Linked DNA regions of Homo sapiens: region 1 is linked to region 2. The links come from fine-mapping of genetic effects on plasma protein levels. A gene starts in region 2. The other region holds a variant in brackets. All regions are shown on one strand. Distances are from middle to middle. Region 1 has its middle 65 kb from the start of SPOCK1. Region 2 holds the start of SPOCK1 (SPARC (osteonectin), cwcv and kazal like domains proteoglycan 1).

What was found. PIP is the posterior inclusion probability: the model's chance that the variant is causal. The UK Biobank Pharma Proteomics Project read protein levels with antibody pairs (Olink). The fine-mapping took linkage between variants from a reference panel, not from the people measured, so its PIPs are less certain.
Region 1: its variant is fine-mapped to the plasma level of the SPOCK1 protein (UK Biobank, PIP above 0.99).

Annotation. Positions count from the first base shown.
Region 1 is chr5:137,556,197-137,572,698 of GRCh38, reverse strand. No RefSeq gene overlaps it. Among named protein-coding and RNA genes, the nearest start is that of SPOCK1, 65 kb to the right of the region's middle. The variant G/C (reference allele first, on the strand shown) is at 9,043.
Region 2 is chr5:137,498,652-137,514,562 of GRCh38, reverse strand. SPOCK1 (SPARC (osteonectin), cwcv and kazal like domains proteoglycan 1) reads left to right here and starts at 15,237. Exons shown (of 11, transcript NM_004598.4): 1 at 15,237-15,384. RefSeq lists a silencer at 15,067-15,286.

The sequences.
Region 1 (16,502 bases), 58 kb before region 2:
GCAGCTAAGATGGAAAACAACTGAATTAGCCAAAGGGGGAATGGGGAAGAGAAAGTGAATCCCACCAGAAAGTGTTGTGTATGAAATCTCAGAGGGGCAAGAGGAAAAGATTCAGAGGGACTGCACAAATTCATTTAGTATGTGGTTTTAAAAACTGGAGTTCGTAGTTTGTTAGTGAGTCATGAAACTGATTTACCATGTCATGACCTGCTTTAAAAAACAAATAGAATGGATGGAATTGAAAATATCAGGGCACACAGTACATAGTAAAGATCACTGTTTCCAGAAACTTTTGTCTCACAAACACATGTGGTGTGTACCCTGGGCCCTGCAAATGTACCTCTTGCCCTGGGCACAGTCACAGGCTTCTGGGAATGCCAGCTCAGCTGGACTGAGTGCAGGAGTTGGGTGGTGATGGGGAGGTGATGAGGACTGGGCTGCGAAAGGCACTTGGGCTCTGTCCCTAGGAGAGGGTGGAGCCTTTGAAGGGTTTTTAACAGACAGCAACAAGGTCACCTCTGCATTTCAGAGCCATCCCTCACCTGCAGTGCAGTCTGCAGCGGGAAGAGAGGCTGTGGCTGCGCAATGGCCTCAAGGGAGGTGATCGGGTGTGACTGGCAGCAGCTCAGGGAAGGAGTGGAGGGGACACAACAGGAGGACACTGGGGCTGATGGATGGACCTTGACCTCTGCCCTCATCTTTCCATTATTATTATTATTATTATTATTATTATTATTATCATTATTATTATTATTATTATTTTTGAGACAGAGACTTGCTCTGTCACCCAGGCTGGAGTGTGGTGGTGTGATCTCGGCTTATTGCAACCTCCGCCTCCCAGGTTCAAGTGATTCTTCTGCCTCAGCCTCCTGAGTAGCTGGGATTACAGGAGACTGCCACCACACCCAGCTAATTTTTGTATTTTTTTAGTAGAGACGGGGTTTCACCATGTTGGTCAGGCTGGTCTCAAATTCCTGACCTCAAATGATCCGCCTGCCTTGGCCTCCCAAAGTGTTGGAATTACAGGCGTGAGCCACTGTGCCCAGCCTGTCTTTGCCTTATTGCTCTTTCTGTGTCTAGTCCCTCAGTCTCTAGCCAAGGCACAGACAGTACCTCCGGCCAATCACAAGGGCTTCATTCATGACCTTGGTAGCATTTTTCTCTCATCTCTCTACCCGCTTTCTGTCTCCATCTGGGGAGTTCAGCATCACTTCAATGACTCAAGCAGGAGGGGAAGAAACCTCCGGAATCTTTCTTTAAAGGAAGGCTTTTTTTTTGGGCTTCCTGCTCCCCTAGATGCAAAAATAGCAGAACAGATGTAACTAATGCTTTAAGAGAAAATTTCCTTTGAGCTGATATCAAACATGAATGTTGGGCCCTGATGGGGATGTTCAGAAAGTTCTAGGTTGGAAAACACTCCATTTTATCTCATTTAAGGATGGGTGCTCTGTGGGCTGTCTCTTATCAGCAGGATTTGTGGGGACTTTGTGGTGCTAGAGGCTCAGATGAGGGGTGGGAGCAGTCAAGCTACAACCTTCCTCTGCATATCCCTCCTGGGCTACGTTCTGGGGATAAAAGAAGAGTAACAGGCAGCACCTGCTGTGAGGACACTTGTGGTGAGTGAGTGGCACCACCAGCCACCGTGAGCCACCTCCTACAGCCCCTCCCCACCTGGGCCACCCTGGCCCCCTTGCTGTTCCTGCCATACCCACCACTGCCTTAGGGGTTTTATTTCTGCTCTTCCCTCTGCTTGGAATAGTCCTCCCCCAGATCTTCACAAATGTCTCTGCTCACATGCCACCCTTCCTGCAGGTGGTCTTTTCTGACCACCAAGATACATTTTTCTTCCAACTTTTTAAAATTTGAGCCAGGGTCTTGCTCTGTTGCCCAGGCTGGAGTGCAGTGGTGTGTCCCTGGTTCACTACAGCCTCAAACTCCCGGGCTCAAGCAATCTTCTCACTTCAGCCTCCTCAGTAGCTAAGACTAAGGGTACATGCCACCATGCCTGGTTAATTAAAAAATTTTTTTTTTTTGTAGAAATGAGATAACACTATGTTACCCAGGCTGGTCTGGAACTCCTCCTAGCTTCCCAAAGTGTTGGGATCACAGGTGTGAGCCACCATGCCCAGCCTCTTCCCAAACTTTTTCTCTCTCATCTTGCTTTAATTTTCTTTAATTGCCCTGGCCCCTACCTGAAATAATCCATTTGTTAGTTTTTGGTGGCCTTTTCCCTCAACTAGAGGGCGAGTTCCATGAAGGCAGGGACCATGTCTGTCCAGGTCTGCCTCGTTCACTGCTGTGTCCCTTGTGCTGGAACATGTGCACGTGCAGTGCATGTGGCATGAGGCAACTGGTGCTGAATAAATATTTCTTTAATGAATGGGTGGTAGATGTGGGTGTCACTGATGCATTGACACATTCATTCTGCATTCAACCATGTGTGAAACACCCTGCTTGCTGGTGAAGGAGGTTTAGGAAGCTTGGTTCACGTCCTGGAGCTTTTGTGGGAGACAGCCACTTGCGGTGTGACACCACATGGTTTTGTACCCAAGTATCTTCCCCTGGGGCTGTGATATGGTTTGGTTCTGGGTCCCCACCCAAATCTCATCTCAAATTGTAATCCCCGTAACCTCCATGTGTCAAGGGAGGGACCTGGTGGTAGGTGATTAGATCATGGGGGTGGTTTCCCCCATGCTGTTCTTGCGATAGTGAGTGAGTTCTCATGAGACCTGATGGTTTTATAAGTGTTTGACAGTTCCTCCATCACATGCTCTCTCTCACCTGCCACCATGTAAGACGTGCCTACTTTCCCTTCCGCCATGATTGTAAGTTTCCTGACGCCTCCCTAGACATGCGGAACTGTGAGTCAATTAAATCTCTTTTCTTTATAAATTACCCAGTCTCAGGCAGCTCTTTATAGCAGTGTGAAAATGAACTCATACAGGCTGAGACTTTGCTCAGAAGGCACCCTACTTCCCTTGGGGCTTCCAGATGGGTTTTAGTGGTTTGTCCTGGGGGACTGACAATAGGGGTCCAGGTCCATGCTGAAATCAATACGTAAGTTCTGTCCGAATAGGCACTGTGGTTTTGTAAGCACATGTACCACCAGGCTCAGATCTGGGACTCAGCTGTGCCCCACTCCTTGCTCCTGCAGCCTATGTCACAGCCTCCTTCCCGTGTGTTCTCAATGCCTCCCTCCTCTGCACTGAGGCTGAAATCTCCACTTCCTTTCTTTGTTTCCTCTGTCATCCTTTCAGCTGGATTTTAGGCTGATAGGAGTTTCAGGTCATAAACTCAGAGGTGTATTGTGTCTCATTTTCTGTAAATCTGAGTCCCTATCCTACCAGGCTGGCAGAAACTTGGGCTCAGTCATTCTTGAGTACTGCCTCTCCTCAGGCAGTGCCAAGGGCTTGGGAAGGCTCTGCCATTGGCCACTGAGCTGCCGTCTTTCCAGCCACATGGTCCCCTAGGTCCGAGTTCTGCTGTTTCTTCCCACACTAGGGCCTTGAGCCTCCTGTCCAGTCTGCCTACTGCGTAGGGATGGTTATTCCCACTGCACACTTACACCATGTGTGTTTACAAAGAGAAACAGGAGGCCTTGTCCCTGCCCTCAGAGATCAACCTGTGTAGCTGCAAGTCACAAAGCTCCACATGTAAAAAGGACAGGCAGTAGATCATGTGTTAAAAAGACCAAAGATGGCCAGGTGAGGTGGCTCATGCCTGTAATCCCAGCACTTTAGGAGGCCGAGGCAGGCAGATCACGAGGTCAGGAGATCAAGACCATCCTGGCCAACATGGTGAAACCCCGTCTCTACTAAAAATACAAAAATTAGCTGGGCATGGTGGCGCGTGTCTATAATCCCAGCTACTTGGAAGGCTGAGGCAGGAGAATCGCTTGAACCCAGGAGGTGGAGGTTCAGTGAGTTGAGTCGCGCCACTGCACTCCAGCCTGGTGACAGAGTGAGACTCCGTCTCAAAAAAAAAAAAAAAAAAAAAAAGACCAAAGACTCCAGCAGTTGGGAGGAAAGCAAGGGTGGGGAGGGTTGGAGAGATGCTGGACGGCTCCTTGCAGGGAGAAAATGGTAAACCTGCATTTGGAGAGTGGGCTGACTTGAGGGTTTTTGTGTGGGGGTTGGGGAGTTTTGTATGAGGGATGGAGAGAACTTAATCCCCATCCCCCATACAAAACCCAGCCATCCAGCTCCGCAGCCAATATGAGGTGAATTTGCTGAAAGAAAGAACCAACGTGACCTATTGAACTCTGAAGAACTTGAAAAGTGTGCTTGGCTATTTCTGCATCAGTATTCTCCCCCCTGCTGCCAGCCAGGCCTGACAAAGTTGGGTTTGAGATGCTGCATCTCTGGATGGCTTTGCCTCTCTTTAAAACAGTGTGTGGCTTTGAAATGTAATATAACAAGTTCGCCTGTCACAGGCCTGAGCAGTTCCTCAGCTGTCGCCCCCAGCTCTGCTTCTGCTGCAAAGGGGCCACATTAGAATCCAACCCCGGAGAAAATGAATCTGGAGTTTGTGGAAGACGGCAGGTGCTTTTTATAGCTTTCAATGGATTTTGAGTGGTGCACAGAACTGACAAACCACCTCTCGAGGCAACAGCTCCTCTGGACACAGTGTTTTGAAAAGGATTCATTTCCACTTAAATGATGGCATTTTAAGTATTTTTTTCCACATTCTGTACCCCCTGTCTTCCTTTTTCTTTTCTGTAGGAAGAGTGTAATGTGAATTAAAATTGCCTGGGAAAGTCTAGGCATAAATATTAAAATGTTTGGATGCTGGTTAAAGGAAATTTATGTTTACAATTTCCCTCTGTTGCAGAAGCTTGCTTTTATTTTTAGCGGAGGTTCTTATCCCTGACTTCAGAAGATGTTCTTCTTGGTGTTTCTCCCTCTTTCTCTATAATCCCTCTGTCCTGTTCTGCCACATCTCTGTGTCTGGTGGTCTTGGGAACAAGTGCCCATCATCTACAAAGCAGGGGAGCAACATTCTAATGGCCATAGGGCCTGTAAGTAAGCAAATATTGGAAAGGGAAGCTGCTGCACCTCCAGCTGACGGTCATCACAAGGACACAGAGCTGAGGGTAGGGGGAGGCCTCTGAGTTTTCATCCAGATTGTAAGGTGAAATTTCTTGAATTTTAAATGTAGGTAACTAAAAAACAACCCCACTATGTGGCTGAATAAAACACACTCATCAGATCCAGTCCTGAGGCTACCAGTTGGCAGCCTCTGCCATAGATGCATTAGGCCAGTTATGGCAACTTATCACACAGCGATAAGCCCAAATTACCCGCCAGCATAAGGAGTTCTCTCGGCGCTTGCAGACCTGCTTGGCCGGCAGCTGCCTCTTTAGGGACAGTTTTAGTTTGAAAGAGTAACCTTGTGGCATAGAAGAAAGAGCCTCAGCTCTCGTACTTTTGTTCAAGTTCTGCAACTTCCGGGGCCAAGTGACCTTGAGCAAATTTCTTGAACCTCATGGGTCTTATTCCTCTAATCTTTTAAATAAGAAAAATTATATCTGAATTACCTACTAGGTTTTGTTCGAGGCAAAAAGGATCACATCAGTAACCATGACTGGAAAAGTGCCGATACCAATTGCTGTTCTTGTTTTGTGTGGCCAGCATGTGGTGGGAAGGAACTGTGAACTTGAAAAGATGCCTACTCCATGCCTGTCCAAGTTCCCGCCTGGTTCTTAGTTCTGGCCTAACCCCTAGGGAAGTGAGGCTTTCTGTCTGTAGCAACATGATTTCCCAAAGCCATCCTGGCACAGACCACAGAAGGCAGAGCAGGGACGGGCAGGCAGGAAGCAGGAGCACCTCGGATCCTGCCCCACCTCACAAGGCTCTGTGGCTCAGAGTATCTTGAAGAACTGCGTCTTTACCAGTTTGTTTAAATAGAACATTTAAACACAGAAACATGATTTAGGATAGTGTTTCCCAAACTGCTGTTCTAAGGCATACTACTCTCTAGGAAGTTGAAGGAGAGGAGAACAGGATTTCATACTCAGCTAAGCTGGGAAACATCGCATTAAAATTAAACAGGTTTCTTTCTTGCAGGATGGTGAGTTCTTTTTTTTCTTACGCGAATGCATACTGTGAGGTAAGAGTTCACTGTATTTTCAAACTTTTACTTACAAGCTCTCATTGGCATTTCATTAAGAGGCAGTTTGTGTAATGTTGACCTAGGTTAGCTCATGCATTTCTTCTCTCCACAGAATTTTGTTGCATGCCACTTGAGTACTGGGGGATAAATGAGCCAAAGCAGACCTAGTCTTGGGTCTGCCCTCCTCACATTGACAGTCTAGTGGGGGAGGCAAGCAATAAACCAAGTAAGCACAAACTTAGTGTAGAGTCATGGCAGGAGAAAGCCTGTGTGGGAGAGGAGTGTGGCGCTCTGGGGGATCTGCCCCTCTGTGTGGGTGTCCTGGAGGGAGGGAACACTTTGAAGGATGCAGAGGCCTGAGCCAACCAGGAGAGGCCAGAGCCAGGAGGTGTGGGTGGACAGAAGCCTGTGTGGCCAGAGCCCTGGGAGTGAGGGCTGGGGATGTGCGTGGGAGGCTGGAGAGACAGCAGGGCTTGGCCACAGGAAGGATTTTGGCATTTATCCTGGGGGTAGTGGGATATCCAGAATCTCTCTTTGGAGGGAGAGGGGAGGCAGAGCAAGAGCACTGTTTTTGTTTGGATTTTGGGGTGGCTTGTCAGGGAACTGATGGAGATTATGGGGGAGGCACTAAAGCCTCCCTAAGCCATGACTTGGTGTGGCCATTGGCTGACATCTTTGGGCTGCTGGGGTGACTGGGGAATGTCTGCACAAGAGATGCCCCCTTTTTGCTGCCCCAGCTGCAGGATGCCTTTACAGATGGAGCACATAGATGACAAATAAGCACTGGCTGTCTAGAGCAGCACTGAATGTTTTGCTCTGTCTTATTACGTGACCTGTGGGTACAGTCAGCTTTCCACGCAGAGGTACTGTTTCCCGGGAAGGATGCTCCTGCCTGCTGGGAAACTAGCACTGGGGCAGCCAGGTCACAGTATGGTTTTTCTTGCCCCTGTTTGCTCTGGAATCAAGAATGTGTTGATTGTGTCTCCCTGAGGACTAATATCCCCCTGAATTTCATGTTACTCAGCCAGTGCAGCATGGAATGCCCTCCATGTGTTCAAACTTCATTCCAAAAATATTTATTGAATGTCTTGCCAAGCATGGGAGATAGGAGAATGAACAAGATGGGCAAGATCCCTGCTCTTACCCAGCTCTTCTGCTAGTGGGAGAGAGACCATGAAACAAGATTGTCAAAGTTGAAGGGTTTGGGCCCCTACCTAGTTCAGGGGGCTTCAGGGAAGGCTTCCAGAGGAAATGCTATCTAGGGTGAATAATGAGTATGCACTAGCCAGGTGAAATGAGGGGTGAGAGAAGAGTGCCCGGAGAAAAAGGAAGAACAGACAGTTCTAGAGGTGAGAGAATGGGGCTTGTGCAAGAGTGAGGGTAGGCTGGGTGCGGAGGCTCACGCCTGTAATCCCAGCACTTTGGGAGGCCAAGGCAGGTGGGTTATCTGAGGTCAGTAGTTTGAGACCAGCCTGACCAACATGGTGAAACCCTGTCTCTATTAAAAATACAAAAAAATTAGCCGGGCATGGTGGCGGGAGCCTGTAATCCCAGCTACTCGGGAGGCTGAGGCAGAAGAATTGCTTGAACCTGGGAGGCAGAGGTTGCAGTGAGCCAAGATTATGCCACTGCATTCCAACCTGGGTGGCAGAGCAAGACTGTCTCAAAAAAAAAAAATGTAAAGAGGGATTCAGTGTGGCTGCAGCATGGGTGCAGGGTGAGGTGAGGAAACTTTGTAAGATTTCCACTTTCCTTGCTCTCCTGGAGAATGTGTGGGGGCGTCCTGAGTAGTCTTGGTGGCAATTGTCCAGTGCAGTCATCCTGAGCACACTAAGTCCTATTCACAGCAAACTAAGATGTACTTCTCAGCCCACTGCACTCACAGGTCAAGTAACAAGACAGAGCAAAACATTCAGTACTGCTCTAAACAGCCATTGTTTGTCATTCTATGTGCTCCATCTGTAAAGGCCTCCTGCAACTGGGGCAGCAAAGAGGCGGCTCCCTTGTGCAGACGTTCCCCAGCCGCCCCAGCAGCCCAAAGATGTCAGGCAATATAACAATGTCAGGCAATACGGCCTATATGAGGGGGGTGTGACACTGCTGATGTCAGAAGTCACAGGAAGTAATTATTGCAAACTCTTAGAGCATACTTACTGCTAAGAAGCCTTTGTATGGATGTCCTGAGCCCTGCACCCATGAATTGACGTAACTGTAACGACAAGGGACGGCTTTTTGTCATTTAACGAAAGGAATGGGGGATAGCAGAGATATATCGGCTGCAGTGACCTTTCACGGTAAGCAGAGAAATGCCAGTGTTGAAACAATTATCTCAAGTGCCCGCGGGTACCAGCTTCCTGTTGATAACATGTGGTGCTAATTACATTGAAGAATTTAGGGCAGATATTGTGTCTAGAATTAATTGGCCTGCAGAAAGGCTGAGCCTGGCTCAGGACCAGAAGCAAAGATGTCAGCCTCTTTCAGCGCCAAATGTGTGGGGCAGCTTCGCCTTCTGGCTTCCTCCTCTCGTGACTTGGGATGAGGTTCCTCTCTCCTCCAGTCACTGTGCTTTATTGCACTCTCTTAACCTTTTCAGTGAACCAAAAATTTGACTGGTCAACCACTCACCCCTTCTTCTGTTTATAGTCTTCCAGACCTGCAGGGGAGGAATCAGTGGCCAGTTAATCAAAATACTCTGTGTGGAAAAGGTCAGCATGGTGGGGTCCCTGCAATATATTTCCCTAGAATGGGAGGTGTTAGCATTCTGCCTCTGCATGCCTTTCCGTATTACCCAAGTCGAACCCTGTAGTCAGGAAATTGCATCAGTCTTGTGGGTTCCTGATGGCTATGATTTTAATGAGAGAGGAACGGTGCCAAGTCTGATCAAGTTGTTCTTTCCTCCTACTGGACCACTGTTATTGGGAAAGGTGGGCA[G/C]TGGTGCTGGGAGATGCTCAATGATTTCCCTGCTGTGAGCACCCAGTCCCTCCTCTGGACTCTCTTCTTTCATAACAGCTAATTACAAGTGTAAGTGCTGATGACAATATTAATTAGCCTTCAGCTGGGCTGCTTTGCGCCAGGCCCTGTGCCAAGCATTTCACATGCATTGTCTCAGGGAATCTCTGTTACAGCCTTGTGAGTTTATTATGCTTCTTTGTGAGACAGGGAAACAGAAGCCCAGAAAGTGTAACTAACATGCTCAGGCCACCCAGCTAGTAAGCAGGAGCCAGGACTTGAACTCAGAGTTTGACTCCAGAGTCACTTTGTTTCAGTCGCCTATCCCCACCAGATCCTGAATTCCATAAGGACAGGGATGGCGGCATGCTGTTTTGTTCGCCCTGTGCCTTCGCTCCTAATATAAGCCAAATACAAAGGGTGGGGGTGCTCACAAGGCACTTGCTAAGTAAATAAATGAACTTAACACCCAAACCTTGTATGAGTGTGAGAGCAGGAGAAGCAGTCTGGAATCAGGTTCACACTCTTTCACCCGCTTTTGTGTGTTTTACAGATAGGGTCTGGAGGGATGGCGTGAGGGCCCAGGCATAGTGCTGGTGAGTGGTTTGCTGTTCTTAAAGAATCCAGTGGGCTGGGAGTGGTGGTTCACGCCTGTAATCCCAGCACTTTGGGAGGCCAAGGCGGGCGGATCATGAGGTCAGGGATTTGAGACCAGCCTGGCCAACATGGTGAAACCCTGTCTCTATTAAAAATACATAAATTAGCCGGGTGTGGTGGCACGCACCTGTAGTCCCAGCTACTTGGGAGGCTGACACAGGAGAATCGCTTGAACCCAGGAGGCAGAGGTTGCAGTGAGTCTAGACTGTGCCATTGCATGCTAGCCTGGGCCATAGAACAAGACTCCATCTCAAAAAAAAAAAAAGAAAAAAAAGAAAAATCCAGTGAAAGCTGCTGTGGTTGTCAAGGTAAACTCACTTCTGAGAAATAAAGACATTGTTGCCATTGAAGGTAATTGTGGGCCATTTGGTATCATTTTTTATTTTCCCAAATCTTTAGCATTGAAAACTCTAATCCGTAATAGTCAGCTAACTGAAAATAGAAGAAAACTCTAGACATCTTCATTTACCTTTCAGTCCTTTAGAGACTTAGAGAATTTTGTTCTCCAAGTGAGTGCTGGGATGGGGTGGGGGCAGGGTGCACCTGCAAGTGTCTGCATTACTGAACTTGGCACATTGATTTTCTGCAGTGAACGTCTCTTATTTTTATCATAGAAAGCTATTTCATTTAGAAAAATTTAAATTATATAAACAAAACAGAAAGACAAGAAGAGTATAGTAAATTAAAGTCCCTCAAAAACCCACAACCCAGAGCTAACCAGTAGATAATTTGGTGAACATCTTTCCAGCATTCATGTGTATATAAAATACAATTTTAAAGAGAGTAAAATACTGTAAATACTGTTTTGCAATCTGCTCCCCTCTTTCCTCATTTAATATACTGTGGAGATCTTTCCATATCAATGGAAATGTGATATGAATATGACACTATATTATTCTTTTTAATGGCTGTATAGGACACTATTGTGTGGCTGTTTCATGATTAATCCATCCCTTATAATGTACATTTATCCACATTCATGTGGCACTATAATTATCCATTTAATCATTTGTCTCTCCCTCTATGCTGTGAGCTCATTGAAAACAGGGACACAGCTAAACCCATGGGCATACAATAGGTGTCCTATAAATGTTTGCATGTATAGATGGATGGATGAGTGAGTGAGAAGGAGAGGAAGAGGCTTTGTTTTGTCATTGCTGTGGATGGTTTCTGACTCAACCTGTCTGAGTGACAGCCTATTAACCCAGGGCTGCAGGAGGCATTTTGGTGATTATATAGCTGGAGGGCCCTTGTTCTTTTGGTGCCATGAGTTTAAATCCTAGTGCCATGAGGAAGTATTTCTGACACCAATCAGATTAATTCCTGATCTTCCTGAAGGGAAGTCCTTGGTTTCTTGACCCTGTGGGTTACTTTCCATGCAGCTGTAGCCTCTCTTCTGCTCATCTCTTTCAAAGGCACATTGGCTGTGCAGGGGAAAATGCCTCTTACACATTTCAGGAAACTGGAATTGGCTTTTTGTGGGGAGTTGAGGGACAGTGTCAGGGATAATGGCTATTCCTCTCTCTCTCTCTCTCTCTCTCTCTCTCATGTTTTAGAATTCTGAGCTGGATGCTTGACCCCATTCCAGGGGTGCAGAATGTGCTGAAAAGTAAAAAGAAAAGAAAACCTCCAAGCTCACTAAGTGAAAATAAAATTAACATCCTAGAGGCCTGCTTCTGGGGACAGTGAAAGGTAGAGTCAAGCTGGGATTCTTAACCTGGGACACAGTAGTGGGAGGCACACAGATGGCCTTCACAGGGTCCATAGCTATTGCTAGATTCTCACAGTGTTTTGAGACTCCAAATATGTTTAGAGCCTCTGTTTATAAAGGAAAAGCAAAGTAAGTACCCGAACCTCATTTTCCTTATCTATAAAATGGAGCAATAGCTACTATCTTACAGAATTGGGTGAGGATTGATAAAATACGATATTTAGAGTGCATGATTCAGGGGCATGGGAAATGGCTGCTATTACTGATGCTTACGGGGTAATGCAGCATGACTTTCTTTGCTCCATGGGTGACTGTCTAGTCCAGCATCGCTGTGCGTGAGTGTGTGTGCGTGTAATGGGCTACAACCAGAGATGTGCTTTAGCAGTTGCTGTGGTCTAAATGTTTGTGGCCTCCCCCCGCCCCCCACCCCAGTTCATATGCTGAAACCTAATTCCCAGTGTAGTGTTATTAGGAACTGAGACCTTGGGGAGGTGATTAAGTCATGAGGGTGGAGCCCTCATGAATGGAATTACTGCCCTGATAAAAGAGGGCCGGGAGCTTGGTTGCCCTTTCTGCTGTGTGGGAACAGATGGAAGATACCATCAATGAAGAACCGTCACCAGGCACCGAATCTGCTGGCACCTTGATCTTGGACTTCCCCAGCCTCCGGAACTGTGAGCAATACATTTCTGTTGTTTACCTATTACTCAGTCTAGGGTATTTTGCTACAGCAGCCCAAATGGATTAAGACAGCAGCCTTGCTCTGACAGAGTGTTGGTCCCATGGACCAGAGAGAGACAGAGAGAAAGATTGGAGCCCAGGTAGAGGTTGTCTCATTGTCCCGATGTGAGCCTTGCAGTGCTGAGGATGGAAGAGGACAGAAGAAAAGAGGAAAAGCTCGTTGGGACTTGGTGAATAGAGGTGGAGTTGAGAGAGAGGATCAAGAGAAAAGGGGGTAGTGGTGGAGAGGTTTGCGGGAAGAATTCAGTTTACTCCTATTGGGTTTGAGGAGAGGTAGACTAGTGGAAATCTAGCAAAAATACAGGTCTCAGAAACATAATCACTTTGAACCCCTTTAGTTCTTTATTTGCATGAGTTTTAGTTTAAGGAGATTTCTGGTAGAGGGAGAACCTGGAGCAGAGGGAGAAGGAAGGGTGATGGAAGGAATGCCCTAGTGTCCCAGCCCAGTCCCTAAATGTGATGGTGAAAAGGCTTAAGGAGAGAAGCTGAAGTTGCCATTTTTGCAAAGGACCCCATAAGTTATGGAGTTGCTGAAGGATGCCCTGTCCCATACGACAGAGTGATGCAGAGTCAGGGAAAGGGGATTTTTCACTTGGGTATAGAAGGCAGAATGAATCTGTAAGCACTGGAGGTGTCAGGAGAGGCACATTTTTTTTTTTTTTTTTTTTTTTTGAGATAGAGTCTCACTCTGTTGCCCAGGCTAGAGTGCAGTGGCACAATCTCGGCTCACTGCAACCTCCACCTCCTGGGTTAAAGTGATTCTTCTGCCTCAGCCTCCTGAGTAGCTGGGATAACAGGCGTGAGCCAGCATGCCCAGCTAATTTTTGTATTTTTAGTAGAGATGGGGTTTCACCATGTTGGCCAGGCTGGCCTTGAACTCCTGACCTCAGATGATCCAACCACCTTGGCCTCCCAAAGTGCTGAGATTACTGGTGTGAGCCACCGTGCCCCACCAGGAGAGGCACTTTTGGAGTGGATGTTGGCATATGTTGATGTATTTGTGATGGGTACTGTCAGAAGCAACAGAAATGAGACTCTCTTGTTGAGTGTGGGGGAGAATGTAGATAAGGCAGAGGGAAGACATGGCTGATCCTGCATCGTGATCACAGATGATAGATGGACTTATGAGCCTGTAAGAGACACTCCTTGGGGAATGTTAGGAGATGGAGGATCTCCAAGGACCGGATAAGGCAAGAGTAGGGAATCTGTTTTTAAGGTCAACATGCCTTCATTTCCATCTACAGGCTGGAGAGACCAGGGAATTTTTGGATAATGAAAGTAGCTATCTGAATGTTGGATTCAAGGAAACTCAATTCAAGAGTCTGTGGACTCAACTGATAATTTTTTCCCCAGCTTTCAGTATCAGAGAGATCTTTGGGTCTCTCTCTCTGTCTCTGTCTCTCTCTCTCTCTCTCCCCTCCCTCCTTCTCTCCCTCCCTCCCTCCCTCCCCAACCCTCTCCAGCAAGAATCTGCATCTCAGAGCTGGGTCCTAGCAAAGAAAAGCCAGCAAATCAAAAGAACTAAAGTTCTTGATTAGAATTCCAGTTTTTTCAAGCCCACTACTGAAGACCCATCTCTTGGGACCTCATCACCTCGCAGTTTGCTCTGGTGTGAGTGTTCCTTTGTAAGGTGACTCTGTGCATAGAAATGTCTAGAAGCCCTCTGTTGAGAAGGGGCCGTTCATTTCCCAGCCTACCACATGATGCTTGAGCTCCAGAAGGCCTCCTGGGCAGAGCCGCCTGGTCAACTCTGAGATCCACTGAGTCTGTTTCAACAACTGTCACCAATTTCCAACAACTCAGGGGCTCAACTTTGAGCCTGCGGCTAGATTCTTGGGTCTCCTCTTTCATTCTCTCAGTGTATCCACCTTTTGCTCTCACCCACCCATGAGGCTAGTTCTCACTTTCCATTGTCTTCTGTGATTACTCCCCACCTTCCCCAAAAAGGAATAAGACGTGGTTCCAGGTGGGCAGATTTTTCAACTTTTAGGCCAGAGATGAGGCATGGGCTTGTCAGGTCCCAGTCTCTCTCTCTCTTTTCGTTTTCTTTTTTTTTAAACTTAAAAAAAATTATTTAATTTTTAAATTTTGCGGGTACATACTAGGTATATATATTTATGGGGTACATAAGATGTTTTGATACAAATATGCAATGCATAATAATCACATCATGGAGAATGGGCTATCCATCCCCTCAAGCATTCCTTTGTGTTACACACAATCCAATTATACTCTTTTGGTTATTTAAAAATGTGCAATTAAGTTATTATTGACTATAGTCACCCTGTTGTGCTATCAAATAGTAGGTCTTATTCATTCTTTCTATTTTTTTTTTTGAATCCATCAGCCATCTCCACCCCTATCTCTTTTTGGTCACACCATACCTGGTGCCCAGTGTCTGCTGGGACTCTCACACCTGTCTCCCAGTCCTCCTGGGCAGAACCCCCTGCTCTCACCCTCCTCACCTTTGAACTGATGCCCCATTGCCACAGGGCCCTGGGCTTTGCTGGGTGGCAGTGGATGCTCACATGACCATCTTCTGTTGTAACACCTAATAGATTCCACATCTTCCCTAAACCTCTTTATGGTGTCAAATGCCACCACTTAATGGTAATAGGTTCTACATGCACCTAATGCCGTCAAGGAATTTATTTATTTCACAGAAAAAACTTTTCTACTTTAACAACTTTTTTTGGATGGAGATATTTTAAGATTGTATTATAAACTTCCTTGCCTTTATGATCAGAGTATTGATTATATTAGTAGGAACAATTTTTATTAATCCTGTGGTAAGATATATGTATTTCCCTCCGTCTCAAAATTTGTGTTGCATGGAGCTGGGCTTTTCTAGTTCTGCACCTGCTCATTTTCACTCTCCTTCCACGCCAGTCTGCATTTGGCAGTCACGTCTCATGCCTTGCCCTCTCATTTTTACTTCTTTACTCTTTTAAAAAATGTTGGTGCAGGCTGGGCGTGGTGGCTCATGCCTGTAATCCCAGCACTTTGGGAGGCTGAGGCGGGCAGATCACGAGGTCAGGAGATCGAGACCATCCTAGCTAACACAGTGAAACCCCGTCTCTACCAAAAAAAAAAAAAAAAAAAAAAAAGAAAAAATTAGCCGGGCGTGGTGGCGGGTGCCTGTAGTCCCAGCTACTCGGGAGGCTGAGGCAGGAAAATGGCGTGAACCCAGGAGGCGGAGCTTGCAGTGAGCCAAGATTGCTCCACTGCACTCCAGCCTGGGTGACAGAGCAAGACTCCATCTCAAAAAAAAAAAAAAAAAAAAAAAAATGTTGGTGCAGTGCAGTGGCTCACACCTGTAATCCTAGCACTTTGAGAAGCCGAGGCAGGCAGATCACTTGAGGTCAGGAGTTTGAGACCAGCCTGGCCAACATGGTGAAACTTTGTCTCTACTAAAAATGCAAAAATTAGCCGGGTGTGATGGCGTACTCCTGCAGTCCCAGCTGCCTGGGGGACTGAGGCACGAGAATCTCTTGAACTCAGGAGGCCGAGGTTGCAGTGAGCTGAGATCGCACCACTGCGCTATAGCCTGGGTGACAGAGTGAGACTCTGTCTCAAAAAAAAAAAAAAAGTTTAAAATTTTCTGATTGTATCACGAGGTCAGGAGTTCAAGCCTGACCAAGATGGTGAAACCCCGTCTCTACTAAAAATACAAAAAATTAGCCGGGCGTGGTGGTGGGCACCTGTAATCCCAGCTACTCGGGAGGCTGAGGCAGATAATTGCTTGAACCTGGGAGGCGGAGGTTGCAGTGAGCTGAGATCGTGCCATTGCACTCCAGCCTGGGGAACAGAGAGAAACTCCATCTCAAAAAAAAAAAAAATTTTTTTTCTGATTGTAATAAACAAACTTACCTAGAAAATAGAAAGATACAAACAAATATGGAGAAGAAAATACAAACAAGTATGAAGAATAAGCATTTTTCCATCTAGTTCTCCCCTCCTCCCTTCCTCATTACACATATGTATGAAAATTCAATCATACTGAATATATATTAATATATATTTCATATTATTGAGCTATTTTACAAAATGATTGAATAGAGTTTTATCATAAGATGTACAATTTTAATTTACCTCATCTCTCATGATTTAACATTCAGGCAATTTGAATTTTTAAAACTAATTAAATTTATGATGAATATTTGTGGGTATTTTATCCTTATTTTTAATTTTTTTAAAAGATACATGCTCTGATGTGAGATTAATTGATCACATTCTAGAGTTTTGCTTGTTTTTTTTTAAGCCCAATTTCATCGACCATACCAATTGTTGCTGATAGCAGCATCCCTCCTCTTCTCATACATTGCTTGTGAGA
Region 2 (15,911 bases):
AGAACATTCAAAGTCTGAGTTAGAGGTTTCAAATGTGTGACACCTGGGGAAGGGGGCTGGTGGGACACCTGACTGCTCTGGGAAGAGGTGTGATTTGTAAATCTTGTTGTGGTCTGAGGTGAGAGGGAAGACTAGACACATGAGAGACAGGGAGAGAAGATAATTAAAACAATGACAAAGATAGGATTATTTATAATGGTACAACAGAGTGAGTGAATTCAGAGATGGACCTGGGTTCTGAGATTGCAAATAAGATGTATATATATACTCCAATTGAAGCTGACTTAAGCAAAGACAAACTAAATGGAATGTGTTGACAAATGTACCTGGCTGCTTACCTTCCCCCTCAGCTCTGATCTTTCTCTCTGTTGGCCTTGTTTGGCATCTCCTCCAAGGAGGGCAGGATGGCCATCTTTGACTCCTGGCTGTCATCTTAGCATCATCAGTGAAAACACACCTATTTCCTACTAATTCCAATGAAAGCCCTAGAATTGAGCCACACTGGCCTGACTTGGGTCATGTGCCCATCCTGAACCAATGACTGTGGCCAGGAGAATCATATGCTTGTTGGGCAGGCTGGGGTCATTTGTCCAGCTTGGGAGGCACCTGCCTTCCTGCATCATATGGGCTGAGGGAGGGCAGGAGGGGGCTCCTCACAGGAAAATCAGAGCATGTTTAGTGGAAGAAAAAGTAAAGAATACTGGGCAGGCAAAAACCTCAGGTCTCTGCTCCATTTATTATGTGCTGATATTTACTCATCTGAACATTTGCCTTTGTGCAAATGAAAGGGTGCCCCATGAATGGCTTGTGTCAGGTGAATAAACCCAGTCTTCATAAGAATAAAAATATAATGTATCACCTTTTGTAATTTTCCTACAACCTTTGTACACACCACAAGTAGGGGGATTGTATATGACTATTGAATTTGAGTTCAATAAAAGATTTGTACCTCCTGAATTACACTTCCACACACAAGATAGGATACATTAACTTAATTACTGTTGGATTCAATAACATAGGCCATTGCCCTGGGAATTTATTTTGTGTTATACTCAGAGAGAAAAACGGCATCATTTCTAAAGGCAGTCAATTTCCAATTATCCATGCTAATGGAAGAACACAGCATGTGGAGACTCTAAATACAGTTTCTGTTTGGTTTAGGGAGTGGACATGATTTTTTATTTATCTACCTGAGTTATTTGTCTTGCTTGGGCTTAGGAAACATAAAAAAGAGTTTGCATTATCTGGGTCTATACTTTCTTTCTTCTTTTTCCCTTGGTTTACAAAATGTGAAGTGTATTTTATTATTTGGATTAAAAAATTTTCATTTTGAACTAATTTTAGACTTATGTAATAGTTGCACAAATAGTGTAGTTTCCTTATATCCCTCACTCAGCTTAGCTTAATGTTAACATCATATATAACCATAGTACAAAGCCAGAAACTAACACTGGTACGACACTATAAACTACAGACTTTATTTGAATTTCACCCATTTTCTACCAATGCTCCTTTTCTGTTCCATAATCCCACATTTAGTTGTTATTTCACTTTAGTCTCCTCCAATTTTCAACTGTTTCTCAGTTTGTCTTATTTTTTATGATCTTGACACTTTTGAAGAATACTGATCAGTTATTTTGCGGAATGCCTCCAGTTTGGGTTTGTCTGATGTTTTCTCATGCTTGGAATGAGCTATGCATTTTTGGCAGGAACGCCAAGGAAGTATCCTCTGTGAATGGTATCAAGAGGTTCATGATGTCAGCATGTCTTATTATTGGTGATTTTGATGTTCATCCCTTGGTTAAGGTGGTTTCTGCAAGGTTTCTTCACAATAAAGTTACTATCCTTCCTTTTATAATTAACAAATATCTTGGGGGAAATACTTTGAGACCATGCAAATCTTACGTTTCTTCAAACCGTCACCTGCTAATTTTACCATCCATTGATAGATCTTGTCTGCAACAATTACTGTAGTGTTTGCCTAATGATGATTTTCTATTTCCCTTTTTCCTTCTACGTTTATTAATTAGAAGTCTACTGTAAGGAGGAACTGTCCTTTCTTCCCTATTTGTATGTTTATTTATTCTGTAGGTTAAATCCGATACTATCATTATTTTTTTTCCAAAATTTTTCTAGCTCTGACCATTAGGAGCTCCTTCAGCTTGGACTCTATTATTTATTTATTCAATAGACTTTACTTATTTAGAGCAGTTTTAGGTTAACAGCAACATTGAGCAGAAGGCATTGATACTTCCCACCTACTCCCTGGTCCCCCCCACATGCACAGACTCCCCTATTATCGACATCCCCTACCAGAGTGGTACATTTGTTACAATTGATGAATCTACATTGACATCAACTAAAATCCATAGGCATTGTGTTTCAGTGGGTGCAGTACATTCTATGGGTTTAGACAAAGTCTAATGACATGTATCCCTCATTATAGTATCATACAAAGTAGTTTCTCTGCCCTAAAATGCTCTGTGCTCTGCTTATTCTTACCTCTCCACCCCCTATTTCCTGGACATCACTGATCTGTTTACTGTTTCTGTAGATTTGCCTTTTCCAGGGTATCATATAGTTGAAATGTCGTGCAGTCTGTAGCCTTGTTTCAGCCTGGCTTCTTTTGCTTAGTAATATGCGTTTAAGCTTCCTCCATGTCTCTTCACAGCTTGATAGTTCATTGCTTTTCAGCACTGAATAATATTCCATTGTTTGGACATACCACAGTTTATTTATCTAGACCTTATTCTTTTGACAAATCCACATCCTTTGTGAGCATTTTCTGACTTTCTATCACCACAAAGTGTTCCAGCTTTATCTCATATTTTTCCTGCTCTAGCACTGAAATCAAGCACTTTTCAAGGAACCCTAGTTCTTTTAATTGAATAGTGCTTAGAATAGAACAGTGCTTTGAAATCAAGACCTAGGCACTAGGTATGCTCGTAGATACTGGGTTGCATTTGTTCTAGACCCTCTCCGTAGAGCTAGGAAATATATGTATTTTACTAATCTGTACATATATACCATCTATATTTCTTGCACCATGGTTTGATGAAAGGAGTGGCCATGGTTGCAGAGATAAAAACTATGTATGGTCCCAACAATATGGGTTTCCTTACCCTAAGGCTAATTTAGCTACTGCCACAGCCCAATGTTCCACCTGCCAGAAACCGACCATTGCTGAGCCTTTGTGTATCAGACCTCTTCCAACTTGGAATGGGCAATGTTTCATTCTGACTGGGATTGATACATATTCAGGGGTCAGATTTGCCTTTCCTGCCCACAGTGTCTCAGCCAGCACCACTATGCTAGGGACCAAATCAGTGTCTGATCTACTGGCATGGGATACCACATTACATTGCCTTTTATGGCAAAGAAGTTATGGCAGAGAGAACATTCATGAGATCCACTGATCCTTTTAAAAACTATACCATACGGAAGTTGCTGGCCTGATTAAGGATTGGAACAGCCTGTTGAAGGTATAGCTGAGGTACTAGTTTAGAGATGATATTCTGCAAGGATGGGGCAACATCCTTTAGGCTGAATAGACACCTTAAACCAATAGACATTAGATGGTGCTGTGTCCCTAGTAGACAGAATACATGAGTCAGAGAATCAAGGGGTGGAAGAAAGAGCACCCCTGCTCATCCTCATACCCCTCCACCCAGGCAGCCAACAGCCAATGCCATGGGGAAACAAAAGACCAGCCCCTCAAAGGGCACCAAGAAGGGGTATGACTCTGTGTTCCTGAGCTCCCTGGGGACACGATGGAAGTGGTCTCTAGCAGAGACCACACCTTTGCTTGGCTTTCTTCCCCTGAACTTGTCTGCTTCCCTTGCTCTCCTTCTTGGAGTGTGCTCTCAATCAATCACTTCCTCAAGAATCCTTGTTTCAGGCTCTGCTTCTAGAGAGATGGTGCTGATTGGGAATTTTTATTCAATTAATGTCATACTTCCCATCTCTTAAATATTCTCAAATAATAAGATTTCTAATGGCCACACGATGTTCTATTATGTGAATATAGTTTATTGAACCAATCTGATTCTAGACATTTAGGTTATTCCTGAGCTTTCACTATTATAAATAATTCAGAGAAGAACATAATTGTTGCTAAGCCTTTGTAAACATTCTTAATTATCTTTTCAGGTTAAATTCTTATGGGTGAAGTTACAAAGTCACTGGTCACAAACATTTTGTGGCTCTTAACATAAATATCAAGAACCTTGGCCTCTAAGAGGACTGTACCAGTTTATGATCCCACAAAGAAAGCAACTTTTTTTCATTTTTGCCAACCCAGAGAATAATGATTTTTAGAAGTATCTGCAAATTTTATCGGTGACTTATTATCTTAATGTGTTTTACTTTGGTTACTTGGCAGTTTGGTTATTTGTAGTTCTTTGGTGAATTGTGTATTCAAGACTTTTGCCCATTTTCCCATTGATGTATTTTCCTCATTAATTTCTTTTTCTTTTCTTTTCTTTTTTTTTTTGAGACAGAGTCTCACTCTGTCACCCAGGCTGGAGTGCAGTGGTGTGATCTCGGCTCACTACAATTGAGTTCAAGCAGCTCTCCTGCCTCAGCCTCCCTAGTAGCTGAGACTACAGGCATGGGCTAATTTTTTGTATTTTTAGTAGAGACAAAGTTTCACCATGTTGGCCAGGCTGCTCTTGAACTCCTGAACTTATGCGATCTGCACACCTCAGCCTCCCAAAGTGTTGGGATTACAGGCGTGAGCCTGGCCCCTCATTAATTTCTTTGAGCCTTTTTTTTTTTTTTTTTTTTTTGTAATTGATTGAAAGTACAGGGAACTTTCAATTGTAGATGTAAAGGGCACCATACAGCTTTTCACAGAGTGCAACGACAGGGTAGAAGTACCATGGCCCTGTCCCTTCATTTCACAAGAGAAGAAACTGAGTCCTAGGAACATCCAGGAAAATCTGGCATTGATTGGGCCAGGCCTCATGACTCCCAACAGAGTTCTTGCTCCACCATCTTTGTCAGAAGTGAGGGCTAAGAGCTGACAGAATAACAGACACTACTGCCAATCCAACATTAATCATGCACTTAGTATATGTCATATTTGGTGCAAAGCACTCTGTGTATATGATCTAATCTTCTCAAAACCCTGATAGATATGTGCTATTATGACTACCACTTTACAAAAAAGGAAACTGAGGCACAGAGAGGGTGAAAAACGTGTAGAGGTCATCTATGCTAGGAACCCTTTGGAAGAAGGAAAAGAACATTCCCCACGGTTGTGCCCTAACATAGTCACAGCTTGTCCCTGGTGCGGTTCTTTTCCTCTTCCCTTCCCCGCTGCTAAAGTCATTCTGTGCACCCAATTCTGTAACTTGCTTTTCTTTCACTCTATGTTTCATGTTGCTTCGTGGATTTTATAGCCATCATTTTAATGCCCTGCATAATATTCCTTTGTTGAGCAGATGCTAAATTCTTGAATTTAGTGTACTCCCACTGAAGATGTTGGGAGAATTTCTGGGGACCCCTGCTGTCTCCCCTGCAGTTCCCCCTGGCTTGATAATTCCCTTTTCACTTCATGCCTTGAGTGAAATGATACAAATTTAACTTGCAAATTGCCTAAGGATGTCTTTCATAGTTGGAGGCATCTGTAAATTATATGCAAATATGTGTGCAGCCAGGGGAATTCTTCCAATGCTTTGACCTTAAGAAAAATCTAGTGGAGATGAGTGTGTAAATGGTTAAAATTTCTTCTCTGAGCCTCAGTTTCTCAGTCTATAAAGGGGTGAACTAACCTGCTTGTGTGAGCTGCATGTGTGAGACTTTAAGGAGAAATTACATGGTATAGAATTATGAAATCCTATCAATTTAAGGGGTACAAGTACAGTTTTATTTCATGTATATATTGTATAGTGGTGAAGTCTGGGCTTTTAGTGTAACCGTCACCTGATTAGTGTACCTTGTACCCATTAAATAATTTCTCATCCCTTATGCTCCTCCCACTCTTCTAAATCTCCAGTGGCTATTGTTCCACACTCTATGTCCATGTGTACACACTGTTTATCTCCCAACCGTAAGTGAGAATATGCAGTTCTTGACTTTCTGCTTTTGAGTTGTTTCACTTAAGATCATGGCCTCCATTTCCATCCATGTTGCTTCAAAAGACATGATTTTATTCCTTTTTATGGCTGAAGAGTATTCCATTGTGTGTGTGTGTTTGCACCACATTTTCTTTAATCGTCTATTGGTGAACACTCAGGTTGATTCCATATCTTTGCTTGAACAGACATTTCTCTAAAGAAGGCCTACAAATGTCCAACAGATGTATGAAAAGATGCTCAATATCACCAGTCATCAGGGAAATGCAAATGAAAATCACAAGGAGATATCATCCCACACCTGTCAAAATGGCTATTATAAAAAAACAAAAAAGACAAGCGTTGGTGAGGATGAGGAGAAACTGAAACCCTTGTACACTGTTGGTGGGAATGCAAAATGGTGTAGCCGCTATGGAAAACAGCATAGAGATTTCTCAGAAAACTAAAAATAGAACTACCATATGATCCAGCATTCCACTTCTGAGTGTTTATCCAAGAGAACTGAAATCAGGATCTCAAAGAGATATTAGCCTTCCTGTGTTCATTGAAGCTTTATTCACAAGATGTGGAAATAACCTAATGTTCATGGATAAGTAAATAGATAAAGAAAATGTGACATATATATATATATATATATATATATATATATATATATATATATATATGATGGAATATTATCCAGCCTTTAAAAAGAAGGAAATCCTGCAATATGTGACAATATGGATGAACCTGGGGGATACTGAGCTAGTCACAGAAGTACAAACACTGCATGATTCTTATATGAGCTATCTAAAATAGTCAAACTCATGGAAGCAGAGAGTGGAATGGCAGTTGCAAAGGGGCAGGTGGAAGGGGGAGTTGGAAGTTGCTAATCAACAGGTATAACATTTCAATTATGCAAGATGAATAAATTCTAGAAATCTGTACAACATTGGGCCCATAAATGACCATATTTAAGCATTTTACACTTAAAAATCTGTTAAGGGAGTACATTTCACGTTAAAAGTTTTTAGCATAAATAATAATAATAATGATAATAATACTGATGCGTTTCTAGTATTGTTCATTTCTGGGTGCTTGAGCATGTTCAATTTAGTGTGCAGAACCTTGCTGACTCATCTGTATTCCATTTTGGAAGTTTTGTTAGGAAATACTCACAGGAAGTATGGTTTTGGTTCATGCTAGCTCAGTGGGTGGTTTTGGAACTCCTTTTGAGTTCCAGTAAGATGGGGCTTCTCAGGGGGTGCTGCAAACGAGTTGGGTTCATTTCGTTGTGTTTCCCGGGCCCTTCTGGATGTGTGGGACTCCTCCAGCTCCAGTTTTGCTCTCTGGTTTCCATCCCAGCTTGAAAGCTGTTTGGAGCGCTTGTTCCTCAAGGAACTCCATTTTGCTCCCAGTCCTGGGATCCTCGGTGAGCTGGAGCCTCTTTCGGGACCCTCGTCCTGTGGGCTCACTCTCTGTTGACTCAGCAGTCACCATCTTCTATTCCCCAAGGCATGAGCCCGCATTGCACCCACACTGTGCAGTCCTTCTAAAGGCAGCCATCTGGCACTGACCCTGAGAGGAAAGGAGGGCCCTGCCAGCCTATCCCAGAGCTTTGTAGCCTGCGTGGAGCCTGATGCCAACATGCGGTTGCATTTCTCTTTGTAAATGAATACAAAGCTAATAAGAAAAGGAAAAAGAACCTGGATTGCCTTTCTGAGCAAGGAAAAGAAAATTGTCTTCAAGTCTCAGAGGGCTTGTTATTCAGCCAACAGAGATCAGGTGTGTACATATTTTCCATCAGACTATGAAGTGCGTAAGTCTTGGACATCAAGGGAAATGCTGTGGGTTCCATGGGCTGTGGCAGCGCTGTGCCTGAGTGCTGTAGTGGGTCATAGTGGGAGCTTTGACGTCAAGTAGTCCCTGGCTCTTCTTCCATTTACTCAATGAGTGATCTGGGATAAAGGATCTCTCAACTCTGGGACTCAGGCTTTTGTTTTTAACATGAGGCTTCTCACAGCGCCTATTTCATGGGGGATTATCAGGAGGATTACATCAGATAACACACAGGACTGTGGTGTCTGACATGCTGTAAGTGCTCATGCATGTCAGCCCATGTTGTTGGTAGTTTTGTGGCCCTCATGATTTTTTCCTCTGTAGTCAGGACTTGGGCATCCTCTTCTCTGTTTCTGAGTAGTTGCTTTGCCATTAGAGTTTTCTGGTGTTTACTTTCATATTGTTGTGAGGTATTCATTTGCTTAAAATCATTTCCTCCTAAAGTGGGTTGTCCATACACCATGGCTCTGCATAGGGGGAAGAAAGCAAGAAGGCATGTGTGTGTGTGTGTGTGTGTGTGTGTGTGTGTGTGTTGGTGGGGGTGGGGGCGGGTGGGGGAAACGGCTGTGAGGGACGCAGGGAGATGGAGTGAGCCTGGCTCTACTGAATACATATAATCAATGGGTGAAATCGACGTGTTCGCAAAAGTTACAGGCCCTGCTGGGTGAGCTGCTTTCAGTGGTGTCAAGAAATGCATCTGTTTCATTACTCCTCTTCTTGGGATAAGGAATTATTCCAACATCACCTTCAAACCACAGCAGAAGAGCCTGGGAGTGGGAAGGTCATGTCATTCCCTCACAGTCCCTACTTTCTATCCAAGGGGTGTTTGGGGGTTAAAATATTCAACATAAACCTTGGAGCTTCTTTGCTTCAAAGAAGGGAAGGAAACAAATGCAATTGAGCTATGAGTATTTATTAATTCACTCAATATTTATTGTGCACTTATGTCCCTTTTTTCAGCACTATGGGTTCAGCAGCAAATGAGACAGACACAAACCCGGACCCTGCCTTTGTGCCGCTGAATGTCAGGTGGGAGAATGACATCAAGCAATTGTGCAGTTGTGATGAGTGCAAAGTTGTGAGGGTCAGGGGTGACTTTTCTGAGGACTTGCAGAAGCTGTGGCCAGAAGGGTGAGTGGGGCTGTCTCCAGGAGAAGAGGGGACAGGGAGGAGAGCGTCTCAGCAGGAGCGAGCCCTGCAGGAAAGGGCCTGAGTGGAGGGGGCAGGATGCTGGTGACCAGAGCAGGAGGGGCAGGAACATCCAGGACAGAAGGATCTAGAGGCCCCTGGGCTTAGCAGGATGTACCAGGAGTCATGGTGCAGTGCCTGGCCTTTGTCCTGAGGGCACAGGAAGGGAAGTAAGTAGAGAAAAGTGATCATATTTACCTTCAGAGAGGACCACTTTGGCTCCTGTGTGGATAATGAATAACCATGGGTGAACTGAGAGAGGGAGACCCTTATAAGGGCTCTGTGGTGTGCAGGTGACATGTGGTGGGAAGTAGATTCTAGAAGTACAGCAGTGGGGAGTGGGTGGAGCTGAAAGGAGTGAAAGAGAGATTGACAGATGAGTGAGTCACTGAAAGTGGGGGCTGAGAAGGAGGGCAGAGTGACACTAGGGTCTTGGTGGGGTGGGAAGTGGTTTCCCCAACATGGGGACACAGGAAAGAGGGTAGGTTTAACAGGGGGGATGCAGCTCAGATGTTCAATTTTGGACACACTGAATTCAGAGAGTGCCAATGAGACAGCACAATGGAGATGCCATGTAGCAGGTAGATATATGAGTTTGCAGCTAAAAATAAATCTGTGCTGATGATAAGGTATTATAGGCACCTCTTTTATTGGATGGAACCTAGTGGGTGATTTGATTCTTGCCAGCATAGCATCATGAACAGGGGTCAGGGAGTACACCTAGAACTTTCTGCAAGTAGGTCCATCTTTCTTTCTCTCTCTGTGACCTTCACCAATTTATCTGCCTTTCTGGGCTCCCCTAGCCTCAGCATAAAATGGTGATAGTTATGTCTACTTCTGACTACCAGTAGCACAGGTTTGAGGATCCATTAAACTGAAAATAAAACATGTGGGGCTCGTAGAAATAAGAACTATGTTAAAACAAGGAGTTATTATAGTTGTGCATAAGCCAATGAAAAGCAGAAATACAGCCCCAAGGCTCAGTATTGATTTTGGTCCTGGGTGCTTCCTGCGGCTGAATAAATCTGCCATTTCTCCCCTCGAGTGCTGGCTGAGCTGATGGCAGGTCTCCAGCTCCCAGCCTCCTTGCCCCTGCTCCAAGGTTATGTCCTTCCTTGGCTCAGGCCAGATCCAGCATGGCCACACCTGCCCCTGCTCCTTTGGTCACCCTTCCCATGCAGGGGATGGTTATGGGGAAGATTCCGGTTGTGAAATTGGAGCATGGCTAGCAGCAGATGCTCTCTGATTAAACTGGGGACAGGTCCCCGAGGAAAGTGGAACTTGGATCTGCAGAACAAGGAATTTAAGGAGGACAAAGGAAATGGCCCTAGACAGGGCTTTCATACTTCAGGATGCATCAAGGGTTATGGAATTTGCTTCATTCATTGAACCACTGGATAAATATTTGTTGAGGGCCCACTGAATGCCAGGTTCTGAGATTAGCTCAGGGATACAGGAGTGAAAAAGACAGTGTTTGCCCTCTTGGAATTAATATTCAAATTGAGGAAGAGAGAGATAATAAACAAAGGAGTAAAACACTCTTGAACGACTGAGCAACCAGATACAACAAGAGAGAATGCTGATGTGGCTGGGAGGGAAGTGTCTATCTTAGAAGGTGTGGTCAGGGAAGGCTTCAATGAGGTGGTGACATTTGAGTGAGACCTGACAGCTAAGAAGGAGTTGCCCTGTGAAAAGCAGGGAAAGGAACACTGTGGGCAGAGAGCCTGGCCAGAAGAGAGGACCTGTGGGGCCCAAGCTTGCTAAGTTTGCAGAACCATGAGAAGAAATCTGGCTAGAACCTAGGGAATGAAGGGCAGAGGTAAGGGACCAGATGGTGCAAAGCTTTGTGAGTCATGGGAGGGAATGTGAATTTTTGTTTTACTGTCATGGCAAGCTATTGAAAGGTTTTATTTAAGGGAGTGATTTCTATTTTAAAAAGATTGCTACATATATACAATGGAGTACTATTCAGCCATAAAAAGAATGAGATCCTGTCATTTGCAACAACATGGATGGAACTGGATATCATTATGTCAAGTGAAATAAGCCAGGTATGGAAAGACGAATGTCACATGTTCTTATTTATTTGTGGGATCTAAAAATCAAAATAATTGAACTTATGGACATAGAGAGTAGAAGGATGGTTACCAGAGGCCAGGAAGGGTAGTGGAGGGTTGCAGGGAGGGTGGGGATGGTTAATGGGTCCAAAAAAAACAGAAAGAATGAATAAGACATAGTATTTGATAGCACAACAGGGTGACTATAGTCAATAAGTTAATTGTACATTTAAAAATAACTAAAAGAATGTAATTGGATGGTTTGTAACACAAAGGATAAACACTTGAGGGGATGGATATCCAATTCTACGTGATGTGATCATTATGCATTGCATGCCTGTATCAAACATCTCATGTACCCCCTAAATACAAACACCCACTATGTACCCACAAAAATTTTAAAAAGAGAAGGCTCTCTTAAAAAAAGATTGCTCTCACCTGAGTGGATAATGGGTTGCAAGGGAAAGGAAAGAAGGAAACCAGCCAAGAAGCACCGTCGTTCTTCACGTGAGAAGTGATGGTCTTGTGGACTCAGGAGTATCTGTGGAAGTGGGGTGAAGTGGGTGGCTCCAGGGGGTGTTCGAAAGTGGGATGGACCCCCTTTGCTGATGGATGGGAGGTGAGGGGCGAGGAGATGGATGAACTGGAGATGACTTGTGGGGTTCTGACTTAAGCAGCCATGTGGATGCGGATACATTCACTCTAACAGGGATGAAAGGAGAACACAGAGGCATGGAGGACATCCAGACTTCTGTTTTGGCCTGGTCACAGATCTGACGTGCCCGTGGGGCATTGAGGAGATGTAAAGTATGAAGCTGGAGGTACAGTCAGAAGTCATTGGAATTTCTGGGCTGGAAATGTACCTGGAGGATCTCAGCATAGGACTGGACTTGGGCACCTGGGGAAAGGGTTTTGGGGGAGAGAAGAGGGATAGGTCTGAGCCCTAAGAAGCACTGGAATGTCAGCAGGAATGATGGGGGGAGCAGGAAAGCCAGGAGGGTTGGAGCCACGGGAGCCAAAAGAAACTGCTCAGAGGCCACACTGGGGAGGATCGAGGGTACCCACTGGATCTGGTGACTTGGAGGAGGCTGCTGATGGTGACAAGTCATTTCAGTTAGTGAGGATGAAAGGCAGATTGGAGTGGGTTGAAGAATGAGTTGGAGGTGAGGAGGCAAAAGTGACATTTAGGGACAACTCCTTGGAGAGATCTTGCTGTCACACTGGGCAGATAAATGGGGAAGTGCTGCTTACTTGGGTTTCTATGAACATAAGAAACAGTCTCTTCATCATTTCTAAACCTCTCTCCCACTCTGATGCACCCACCCACAGCATTCCATGATAAAATAAACCGTGGATGATGTGCAGTCCCCAACATAGTAGCTGTGACTCCATTCCTTTTTCTCCCTTTTGAGAAAGTTTCTAGGAATGCAAATCAGGCAGAGTAATGTTGGGAAAACCACAGATCTGCTGACTTCCACACATTCAACTATTATATGTAACCAAATTATTTGTAGCGCAACTTATTATTGATCACACCATACATTATTGTTGGCATGCTGGCTGAGATGTGTTGTTGTTCCAGACATGGTTGGGTGGCATTCATTCATTAAATCATTCATTCATTTATCAAATTTTTTTGAGCACTAACAATGTGTCAACTCTGGGCACTGGGAGAAGTGGTGAACAAGACAAAGATAGCCTCTGCCCTCAGGAGCTCTAGCCAGGTGGGGAGGCAGACATAGAGTAAGTGATATCAGTTGAGCTTACAGCCAGAGAAGCACTGTGTTCTCAAAGACAGCATCACTGCAGGTGCTGGCCTGGTCCACAGGTGTAGCAAGAGTCTCTGAAGAAGTGAGGATGAATAAGCAGAGAGCAGAATTAATGAGACTTGTGCTGGGACTGGGTATGGACAGCAGCCCAGGCAGAAGTGAATACCCAGGAGTGGAGGGAGCCCATTTCCACTGGGGTCAGGGCCAGCCCGTCCAGAAGGTCAGAGGAGGAGAGAGTGGGGTGAGAGGCGGGGTCCAGATGTGCGGGGCCTGGGGGCTCCAGCCAGGAGATTGGTCTTTATCAGGAAAGCATTGTGAAGAATTTTGTGTTGAGGGGAGAGGGGTGATGGGATGGTCAGACTTGTTCTGAAAGAGCGCTCAGGTGTCTGGGGAATGGGGTGTAGTTGTACAGAGAAAGGTGACAGGCCAGTATCACTTGTATACAGGCAGGGGAAGACATTAAGTCCCTTCCAGCCCTATTTCACCAAACATTGCTGGTATTTGGAAACGGGGTGGGGGATGGGGCAGGACCAGACTTCTGCTTCTCAGTGTTCTGTCCCTGTAGCCTGATCTGTTTTTCCTCTCTCCCCTCCCTCCCATCTAGGGGAACTCAACAGGTTAGTGCTGGGGCCGGTTCTCAAGGGGCAGGACAGTGGTAAGCATGGCATAGGGCATGGGAGTGCAGAGATGCAGGTGGGTGCATGACTTGGGATGGGCAGTGCAGATATTCACTTATCCAGGGAATGGCAGGACGGTGGTTATCAAACTTTGCCATGCATAAAAAACGCCTCGGGAGCTCATTAAAAGTGCAGACTTGGAAGCTTTCCTAAGGAATGCTGACTCAGCAAGTGGGGCGGTGGGGCAGGAATCATTTTTAGGAAGTTCGCTTCTCTCTCCACCCAGGTGATTTTGATCTAGATAACCCGACGGCCTTCCTTTTGAGAATGCCTCCATGCTGGCCTGCGTCTTGGCCTCATATCCTCAGTCCCCTCTTCTGTCTCGCACCAGCCTGGGCCTGAAAGCTGATTTTAGCCCTGCATTAAGATGTGAATGACCCAGGACATAGGCGTGGGCAAGGACTTCATGTCCAAAACACCAAAAGCAATGGCAACAAAAGCCAAAATTGACAAATGGGATCTAATTAAACTAAAGAGCTTCTGCACAGCAAAAGAAACTACCATCAGAGTGAACAGGCAACCTACAACATGGGAGAAAATTTTCGCAACCTACTCATCTGACAAAGGGCTAATATCCAGAATCTACAATGAACTCAAACAAATTTACAAGAAAAAAACAAACAACCCCATCAAAAAGTGGGCGAAGGACATGAACAGACACTTCTCAAAAGAAGACATTTATGCAGCCAAAAAATACATGAAAAAATGCTCATCATCACTGGCCATCAGAGCAATGCAAATCAAAACCACTATGAGATATCATCTCACACCAGTTAGAATGGCAATCATTAAAAAGTCAGGAAACAACAGGTGCTGGAGAGGATGTGGAGAAATAGGAACACTTTTACACTGTTGGTGGGACTGTAAACTAGTTCAACCATTGTGGAAGTCAGTGTGGCGATTCCTCAGGGATCTAGAACTAGAAATACCATTTGACCCAGCCATCCCATTACTGGGTATATACCCAAAGGACTATAAATCATGCTGCTATAAAGCCACATGCACACGTATGTGTATTGCGGCATTATTCACAATAGCAAAGACTTGGAACCAACCCAAATGTCCATCAATGATAGACTGGATTAAGAAAATGTGGCACATATACACCATGGAATACTATGCAGCCATAAAAAAGGATGAGTTCATGTCCTTTGTAGGGACGTGGATGAAATTGGAAACCATCATTCTCAGTAAACTATCGCAAGAACAAAAAACCAAACACCGCATATTCTCACTCATAGGTGGGAATTGAACAATGAGATCACATGGACACAGGAAGGGGAATATCACACTCTGGGGACTGTGGTGGGGTGGGGGGAGTGGGGAGGGATAGCATTGGGAGATATACCTAATGCTAGATGACGAGTTAGTGGGTGCAGCGCACCAGCATGGCACATGTATACATATGTAACTAACCTGCACAATGTGCACATGTACCCTAAAACTTAAAGTATAATTAAAAAAAAAAATAGAAGTAAATTAAAAAAAAAAAAAAAAAAAAAAAAGATGTGAATGACCACGTTCCGGGCTGGGGCGGCCGGGCTGTCGGGCAGGCAGCGCGCGGCCACCAGGGGGCGCCAGAGCCTTGGCTCGCGCGCTCGGCCTCCTCCGCCCGCGGACGCCGCGCCCGAGCCAGCGAGCGAGCAGAGCACATCGCTGCGGGCTCACAAAGCGGCCAGACGCTCGGCGGCGGCGTGTGGCAGGAGCGCAGGGGCGCGAGCCGGCGATCAGCCTTCCCGGCGACCGTGCCGCGGGAGCTCGAGCAACTCGGACTAGGGGACCCGGGCCGGCCCCCAAGGTACGTGCCCAGAGGAACCCCGCGCCCCAACTTGGAGTAGTTGGGACCTCCCCGCGGCCGCCTAGGGGGCTGGCAGGGTCAGGGCCTGGGGTTACCTCCGCGCGCCTTTCTTACCCCCGAGACCTCAGGGCGCTCAAGGGAGACCTTTCCCTTAGCTGTCGCCGGGGACCCCCAGCTGCTGGCAGCCCCCACCCCGCTTGCCGGAGCTCGGGTGCTGCTGGAGCCCTGTTCTCCCCTCTCCTGCCCCAAAGCCGTGTGCACCGCACCGTCTGTGGGAGTGCGGCGTGCGGACCCGGGCTCCCCGCTTCTGGGGAGGGGTACCAAGCCCCTGATAGGAGGGCGGCATCTGTGGGGCACTCGGAGAATAGACGAGACGGGTCCCCTGTAGTTGGACGGCAGCCTCGGATTCGTGACGCAGCCTCCTCGTTCGTAGATGAGTCCCCCATTCGTGAGAGGGGTCCCTGGGTCTAGAGGCGCGACAGGCGCCCCAGGTGCGCGAGCGCTGCCCGTGCCCGCCGCGGGGTCCC